2 separate regions of the Homo sapiens genome follow, and region 2 is linked to region 1. Evidence: fine-mapped expression QTL. A gene starts in region 1. The other region holds a variant in brackets. All regions are shown on one strand. Distances are between the middles of the regions.

Region 1 (4,397 bases):
AGAAAAAACTGATTAATTCTGTATTTACTCATAACTCTCCAGACCAGAATCTCCCCCTCCGAGCTGTAGACACCTAAGAAGAAAACATCCGAACCAGTGGCTGTTCTGAGGTCCACAGACACCTAGTAAGGCACCAGGGATGAAGGAGAGGACGTGGCAGCAGCTGCAGACAGCCCTCATGTGACTCTGCCAGCTGCGATCTGCCCACCGTGGCCGGTGTCTGTATCTCTCTGTGCCTCAGTTTCCCCTCCATACAATATGTAAATGGAAAATGGTCTGAGGCTTGCCACTTTGTCTGTGAATGAACTTTAAATTATTCACAGGATCTGACATGAAGCTTGGCACAGAGGAGGTGTTCACATCAACAGCATCTGTTATTTGCCTCCATGGGAGAGCACCCCTGGGCATGATCCCCGGTGGACAAGAAGCTGCCAGGAACATTTTCTCCCCTCTGTTCCTACCCCTGGGCCACTGACTGCCCAAGGGCATCTCTTAAGCTCCTCATTCAGGGGGCCAATGCCCTAGTAATCCTGTCCCCCTGCCCTCTCCAGGCTGAGTCCCAGGGAAAGTGGTAGGCTCTGTCCTTGTCTAGATGAGACTCTGGGAGCTGAGCCCTCACTGATGAGAAGCTTCAGGAACCACAGCCCGCAGACATCTGGTAAATCCTTGCTCCCAGTAAGCCCTGCCCAGGAGACCACACCCCAGCCCTGACACAGGCTTCCCGGGGTCACACGGAGTCAGGAGTCCTGAGGCTGGGCTTTTGTGAGGTTCCCAGGACGCCCTCAGGCCAGGCCCTGACCCAGTTCTCCAGGGTCTTTCTCAGGGTCAGGTTCATGGGGAGGGCATGGGGTGCTTGGCTGAGACTGACCTCCCCCTGCTGAGGCCCCCCCGCCCCCGCCATCAGTGTCTGCAGGGCCTGGATGCAGGAAAGGAATTCTGATCTGTTGAAGTTTACCTACCATGTGTGTGTCCTGCACTAAATGCCCAAATCTCAACACGGGACAAAATGCAGAGGGGGATGCAGGCACAGCCCAGGCCTGACAATCTCATGTGTGTGAAGCAGAACTGACCGCCAGCACCCAGAGGTATGGGGGAATCACTCACGGTGTACGTGGAGCTGGCCAGTTGCTTGGTCAGAGTCGTAACTGGCATTTATGGTTCGTAGGGTGTAGGATCCTGCGTCCTCCAGGGTGATGTTTTGGAACAGCAGGGATCCATTGGGGTATACTGTCTCTCGACCACTGTATGCGGCCCCTGGGATATTTGCTTGAATGTCTGTTATATAACCAGCAATGAGAGGGCTCCCTTCTGCCGTTTTCCCCTTGTGCCAATAATAGGCTTGAATAGTTTCTGAAATATTGCAGGCCAGTAGAAGAACATCCTTTCCCTCTGCAGCACTGGACGGCAGGGCTTCAATAGTGAACTGGACAGTGGTGGGCGGGTGCCAGAAGGTTAAAAGTGAGGCTAGGAGGTGAAGACAGCATCAGTCAATACTGGGACCTATGGAGTGGGATGGAAAGATAAGGCCCTGGGTCCTCAGCAGGTCTCCTCATCCCTCAGCCTTGGAGTGTGTGTGTGTGTGTGTGTGTGTGTGTGTGTGTGTGTGTGTGTGTGTGTGTGTGTGTGTGTCCCTGGGTCAGCAGCATGACCCCCATTCCTTCAACAGCTTGGACCTTGGCATTTCCCTGGTGGAATCTTCTTCCCCAGGGGTCTGCACGGCTCCCTCCCCACTGCCCTCAGATCCTGCTCACATCAGGGTGTTTTTGGGAGACCCCTCCCCTGACACCTCCTCTAGAGACCCTGGGTCTTCCCTTTCTGACCTTTCCCAGCTCTGTTCCCTCCAGGGCTCTTGTCAGCACCTGACCTCACATTCTAGATCTCTTTAGGTGTTTGTCTTCCTCCCCATGAGAGCGTGAGCTCTGTGAGGGCGGGGACTTGTGTGATCTTGGTTGCACCCCAGTGCCTGGCACAGGCTGCAGACTCCTGTAGATGAGTTCATGAGCATTCTCAGGGCCTCCAAGTCCTGAGGTTTATTTCCCAGTGTCTGAGGTTGTTGGCTAAGAGCAGTGTTTTATGCCCTGGTTATGTTTTTATTTGAAGTGTCATCTGGTATAGTTATTATCATTTTTCAAAATGTAGTGGCCAGTGATGATTAACCAGGACGAGAGAACACTTGAGATTTTCCTGCCTTTTACCAATTCCAGTTCACTGAGATTTTCCTGTTGTGACCCCTGCCCCTCTCTGATGTTCTCTCCCTTATCCAGCCTCCAACAGAGGCCCTCAGTCCCCTCTCAGAGCCCCAGGAGACCCCAGCCAGAAGCCCTCTATCCCCTCCTACCCAAGAGACCCCAGTCAGTCTCTGTGCTCCCTCTTCCCACCACTCCCAGAGAGTCCTCCCCTCACCTGTGATCAGGAGCCCCTGCCAGGGCCTGTGCCCTCCACGGGGAGCGGCTGAGGGGGGGCCCATGGTCTCTGCTGCCTGCTTGTCCTCTGTGGAGAGGAGCTGGGCTCCAGGAACGCTCTTGTCAGAGCTGCTGTGACTGTCGGCTGTCGGGGCTGCTGACCTTCCTCCTTCTGTGCTGAGCCTCCTCCCGGGCAGAAGCACTTCCCAGGGCCAGGGGCAGAGGCGGGGCTCTTCCCAGGTCACCCCTCTGCCCCTCCCCTCTCATTTCTGCCTTTTTTGTCCCTCCTTCCCCTTTCTCTTCTGTGTACATTACAGTTTCCTAACCACACTTTGAGAAGCAGGGTTGGTGGAGTCCCCTGTCCCCAGAGAGGGTGACTTGTCACCCCTGCACTGACCCTTTGGGAATGTCACCACAAACAGAGGTACTCTGGGGTCTCCCAAACTTGGGGAACTGTTTCCTTTTGTGACACAGAGACCCAGCTGGGCCCCCAGGTCTCCTCATGCTCCCCAATACTCAGGGAGTGTGAGATGATACCCAGCAGGAAGGTGACAGAGGTGGCTCTGTGGGATAGAAAATGGGGGGCGACTACGGGGGGGACCAGTCCTCTCTCTCCAGTGTCACCAGCCTTGCCTCTGACCCAGGGACAGAGATCCAGGCCTGGGGGTCTCAGGAGGATCCCCAGCTCCTGGATGTGGAGGGAGGTGTCCTGCATGTCCTGGGAAGAGAGGACTGTGGTGGAGGGAGGTGGGTGGCTCTGGGTTCTGCTGTCCTTGAGGAGGGATTCAGGGAGATCCTCCCTCTCCGTTTCTGTTGGCTGAGCTGTGGCTTAGGGCCTGTGCATGTTCTCCCTTACCATCCCGGGTGGCCTCTGTCCTCTGTGAAGGTGATTGTCCTGTTGTCACTGTACCTTCCCCATGCATGATACCAGGAGAAAGTGGAGAACTGAGCAGAGAATCCTGGCAGAGCAGGATCCTCAGAGGCTCCAGGAAGGATCAGGAGAGACAGAGCAGGCACATGGGAGGGACTGGAAGGGCCTGCTGGAGCAAAGTATGGAAACCAGGCTTCACCTCCACCTCCTTAGCAAAGCCAGATTCCTGTCCAGGGGAATCCATTTCCTGTGTTGTCTGCGTGCAATGTTGCCCCTGGAGAGCAAGAGGAACCCTGTGGTAAAAGTCAGGGGCTTCCCCAGGGATGCTGACCAGGGTCCACGTGGTATGAGTTGGCCCTGGCCCCTGGGCAGAGGTGGGCTCTGACCTCCAGACTGCAGGGTCAGGTCATCCTTGGTCCTGTTCACTGTGGGTCCCCAGGATGTCCAACTCCATGCAGTGCAGGATGAGCTCAGGGAGAGGACGAGAGTTGTCCAGAGCACTCCTGGTCCTGATTTGGGAGAACTGTCCTGCAGGCGGATGGGCTGCCTCAGAAAGAGCCATCCGTCCCCAAGGTTTCAAAAGAAGGGCCCAGGGAGGTGTCTCTGGGGGTTTAGAGAGAGGGCACTGGCCTGGGAGGTGGTCCTCGGTGTGTTCTGTGTTCCTCCATCACAACACTGGGAGTTCCGCCTCCAGGTCATCTGTGTCCCTGTCTGTCACCTGCCCCAGGCCTCTCCACAGGGCCCAGGAGCTGGGGCAGCTCCTACCTGCAGGCTGCAAGGGATACCTGGTTCCTGTATTAGAGCAGGGGAGGCCCCGTGACCCTCAGTCCCTCTGAGATGGAAACAAAGGCAGATCCTGGGTTATCCTGTCCCCTCCTGCAGGAGAAGTTCCCCTGGATCCCCTGGTGAAATGTCTGCAGGGACCATAGGCAGATGTCCCAAATACTGGGGATCTCGAGGCTGGGGAATCACTCCCTGACTTTCTTGTGGTCATTCTGCCCTGGTGGAAGATCCACCTGGGATCGAATATCCGGAGTTTGTGTCAGTTTTGGTGTGTTTGTGAGAAAGACATATGTTAGAGCCTGGAGGGAATGTCAGTGAATGATGTCAGGGAATGAATTGGG
Region 2 (4,397 bases), 51 kb after region 1:
TTTGGTTATTTCTGTGGCATGTAACACTATGACTGACAAAATATTAGATTTCTAGAAATCTCATATAATTTTTGAAACATTCACATCAATAACATACCCGCAAATATAACTTAGAGAAGGTTTGGCATCACTTGTCATTTGACAGTGTTTTCCATATAATTTAACATATCAATTAAGGTGAATTTCCATCTCGCTTCTGTTTCTCAACTGGATTACTGAGTTCAGGGCATAGTACATTAACAAATATGGCCAACAATGTATAAGCTTATGTATGTTGAAAAAGTTCCCCAGGTAATTTTGATACATACCCCTAGCTACAAACCATTGATTTAAGCCCAAGTCCTGCTTATCAGAGCAGGGGTTCTGCATCCTGCTTGCACATTAGTAGCATGTGGGAAGGCTTAAATAATAACGCCTTGGTCCCACTCTAGACCATTAAATCAAAATGTATGAGCAGAGCCTGGAAATCAGTTGTTCTTTTAAAAATTTTCCAGTGATTCCAGTGTGTAGCCATATTTCCCATTAGATTTCTCTTTCTTCTTGTGGAATTTATCTTTTTCTATTTTGGTATTACAATTATTTTTCATGTCTTATTTTTTGGAGACAGGGTCTTGCTCTGTGGCCCAAGTTGGAGTGCAGAGGCACAATCATAGCTCACTCCAACCTTGAACTCTTGGGCTCAGAGGATCCTCCCACCTCAGCTTCCCAAAGCACTGGGATGACAGTTGTGAGCCAATGCACCTGGCCCTTTGTCTTATCGTCTGTCTTAGGCTTTATGTTCCCTGGAGTAGGGACCTTGCCTTCTTCATTTCTGTATCTTTCATGAACACATGAATTGGTTATCAGGAAAAGATTCTCAGCCACGTTTAGGTTGTGTCCTGAGTCTCAGGTTCACATACTAATGCTACCGTCTTTGTCCTCCACAAGGACAGAGGTTGCTTGTGATGAAGGGTGTGGGTAACTCCACAATGCAGGTGGTGGAGGAAGGTTACCTTGTTTTTAGATATAACATTGGAACTAAGAATTCTATGTGTACATGGGGTGGAAGGGCAGGATGTATAGGAAGACAGATCTAATTAGGATGGAGAAATTATACTCAGGAGTAGTGGTAAAGGAAGTAAAAAGGATTCATGAAGAGAAGAAATGTGAACTTATCTAATGGGCTAGAGTAGGCCGCTGCAGGTTCTTCAGTAGGTGATTTTAGGAAGGTAATGAAGTAGTCATATGCTAGGAAGCATTCAGACTAGAGAAAAGAAGTCAAGCAGGACTTCAAGCAGTTGTTGAGGTTTATGGGAATGGAGAGAACAGCACAAGTGAAAGATGTTTTAAAAAGGACCAAGAAGCTTTCACAATGTATTGAATTGGGGAAACAAATGAGCAGAGGCTGGGAGTAGTCATGTCTAAGAGACAGTGGAGTACAGGAAGCATGAAGACCAGGGAAGAAGAGACCTGCAGGAATTAGTGCTTAGAAGCAGGAGTTTAGTGGGAGGAGGAGGAGATCTAGTCCCAGATACAGGTGAAGAAGTCCTTTCCCTCTCCCAAGCATGGCAGTCAGCCCTGCAGGAAATAGGATAAGAGGAAAGGTCATAATACCTACCACTCTTCCCGAAATGCAGAAACTACACCAAGGCTGCTATATCAGAGCCATCCCAGCCAGTACTCCAATCATGATGCTGACAGCGGTCCCAGCTGAGAGGTCAGGTGAACTTGCTTGTACTGACTCATCTGCCATGGAAAGAAAAGAGAAGGAATGAAGTTGATCTTATTTTACAGGGAAGTCCCCCAGGAACCAACTCTCAGCATGAAGTCGTTTCTATTTGTTCCTTCAAGGAATACATTATTTTTGTGGGAAGGTTGCTGGGAGATGATTATCCAACTAAATTCTTGCAGGTTTTTTATCTCACCAGGTTTCCAGGTTGATGGTCAGTCTTCTGTCAATTCCATCCTGACCTTTTTACACTCAGATATTTTTGAAGGCTTTGAAATTTGAGAAAGACTGATTGCTAATCTTGTATGTCATTAAAACTTCCCACTTTTTCATGGTTGCATTTTTTTTCTTAGTGTCTCAGTTGTGGCAGTTAGTGCATTTTGAATTCACCACCTCCTTTGCACAGAGACCTCACTTCCCATGGGCTCCCAGCAGGTGTGTGAAAGCAAGTCAAGTTCTGCAAGACTATTTTGCTCTGAAAGGTGATGGGCTTGAGGAATTCCCAACAGTCTTGCAGAAACTCTCTTCGAACTGCACTGCAATCTAAAACTTTCTTTTTTTTCTCTTTCTCCTCCACAGGCATCACATCTGCATCATGATCTGAGGGCTCTCCCAGGCTCCTCCCCCTCCCAGCCCACTTTCCCTCACAGGTGTTTTTCCCTCAAAATTATATTGCATGTCTAATCCCATCTTG[A/G]CTGCATCTCTCTGAATGAAAACTAACATACTAGGCTTGAGACTTCATATTTAACTCTGTTCTTTTCCCTCTCCCATATTAATCAGTAACCATGTCCCAGTGGACTTTTTGTGTAATGCCTGTTTCTCCCATGTATATGTATATGTATATGTATATGTATATGTATATGTATATGTATATGTATATGTGTGTATATATGTGAATATATATATGCACATGTATATATAATACCTTCTGCATCTGTTTCTTCTTTATTTCTGTTGCAATAATTTGGGCTTAATTTCTCATCAGTCATCAGTCAACTCAGACTGATGATTAATAATCACTAATATTAGCTACTGTTGAGGGGTGCTTCCTATGTGTCAGGCCCTGTGTTAAATTATTTACATGTATCTCATTTGAGCTGTAAAATAATACTGTCAGGTAGAAAATAGAGGTGGCTTAGAGTGGTGAAAAAACTTACCCAATGTCATACAGCTAGTGACAGGCGGATCTAGGATTTGCCTCTAAGACTACCTGACTTCAAGGCTAATAATAATGGTAGCTTTAACAGCAGCTAACATTTATGAAACAGTTCCTCTGCATGTGGCATTTTGCTGAATGTTTCATTGATTATTACATTAAATCTTCAAAACAATACTGTGAAACAGGCACTCTTATTGCAATTTTCAGTTGTGGAAACTAAGGCTCAGAGAAGTTAAGAATCTTGTGCAAGAAATGTATAACTATAAATACATACATTTAAAAAGAAGAAAGATCTGAAATCAACAACCTGGCTTTACAACTTAAGGATATAGGAGAAAAACAAATGAAACCCAAAGTTAGCCAATGAAGGAAATAATAAAGATTAGAGTGGACTAGAAAAACAATAGAGAAAAGCAATGAAACCAAAAGGTGGTTCTTCAAAAAAGTTCAACAAAATTCAAAACCTTTAATTAGATCGACTAAGAAAAAAAATGAGAAGATAGAAATTACTCAAATCAGAAATGAAAGTGATTACTACCAATTTTACAGAAATAGTAAGTGTTATGAGTATTATGAATAATTATATGCCAACAAGTTAGAGAACCTGGATGAAATAAATTCCCAGAAACATAAAACCTTCCAAATGGAACCATGAAGAAACAGAAAATCTGAATAGACTAATAACTACTAGGGAGACTGAACCAATAAAACATTTGTCAAAATTCAACATTCTATCATAGTAAACACACTCAGATTATAAATAGAAGGAAACTACCTCAAATATAATAAAGGCATTATCTGAAAAGCCCAACGCTAACATCATACTCCAGGGAGAAAGACTGAAAGCTTTCCCTCTAAGATAAAAACAAGACAAGAATGCCTAGTTTTACCACTTCTATTCTATGTAGTATTGAAAGTTCTAGTAAGAGAAAGTAGGCAAGAAGAAAGAAAATAACATCCAAATCAGAAAGAAGTAAAATTAACTTTGCAGATGACAGGAACTTACATGTAGAAAACCCTAGAGATTAAAACAAAATTTTAGAACTAATAAACAGATTCAGTATAACTGCAAGATACTAAATCAACATGCAAAAATCAGTTGAAATCAGCTGTATTTCTTTTTTCTTTTTTCTCTGTCTCTTTCTCTCTCTCTCTCTTTTTTTTTTTTTTTTTTGAGACAGAGTCTCATTTTATTGCCCAAGCTGAAGTGCAGTAGCATGATCTCGGCTCACTGCAACCTCTGCCTCCCCAGTTCAAATGATTCTCCTGCCTCAGCCTCCCAAGTAGTTGAAATTACAGGCGTGTGCCACCACACCTGGCTAATTTTTTTTTTTTTTTTTTTTTTTTTTTTTTTAGTAGAGACAGGGTTTCACCATATTGGTCAGGCTGGTCTCGAACTTGTGACCCCAAATGATCTGACCACCTCAGCCTCCCAAAGTGCTGGGATTACATGTGTAAGCCGTTGCATCCAGCCAAAAAACAGTTGTATTCCTATGCACTTACAATGAACAATCTGAAAAGAAATTAAGA

What was found. PIP is the estimated chance that this variant, and not a neighbour inherited with it, causes the effect.
Region 2: its variant is the best candidate, but not a certain one, in a credible set for the expression of CEACAM4 in lung (TOPMed, PIP 0.52).

What each region holds. Positions count from the first base shown.
Region 1 is chr19:41,624,497-41,628,893 of GRCh38, forward strand. It overlaps CEACAM4 (CEA cell adhesion molecule 4), which reads right to left and starts at 2,578. Exons shown (of 7, transcript NM_001817.4): 1 at 2,404-2,578; 2 at 1,105-1,464. The coding sequence starts at 2,467.
Region 2 is chr19:41,675,779-41,680,175 of GRCh38, forward strand. It overlaps CEACAM7 (CEA cell adhesion molecule 7), which reads right to left. Exons shown (of 5, transcript NM_001291485.2): 4 at 1,598-1,725. The coding sequence ends at 1,634. Among named protein-coding and RNA genes, the nearest start is that of CEACAM7, 10 kb to the right of the region's middle. The variant A/G (reference allele first, on the strand shown) is at 2,403.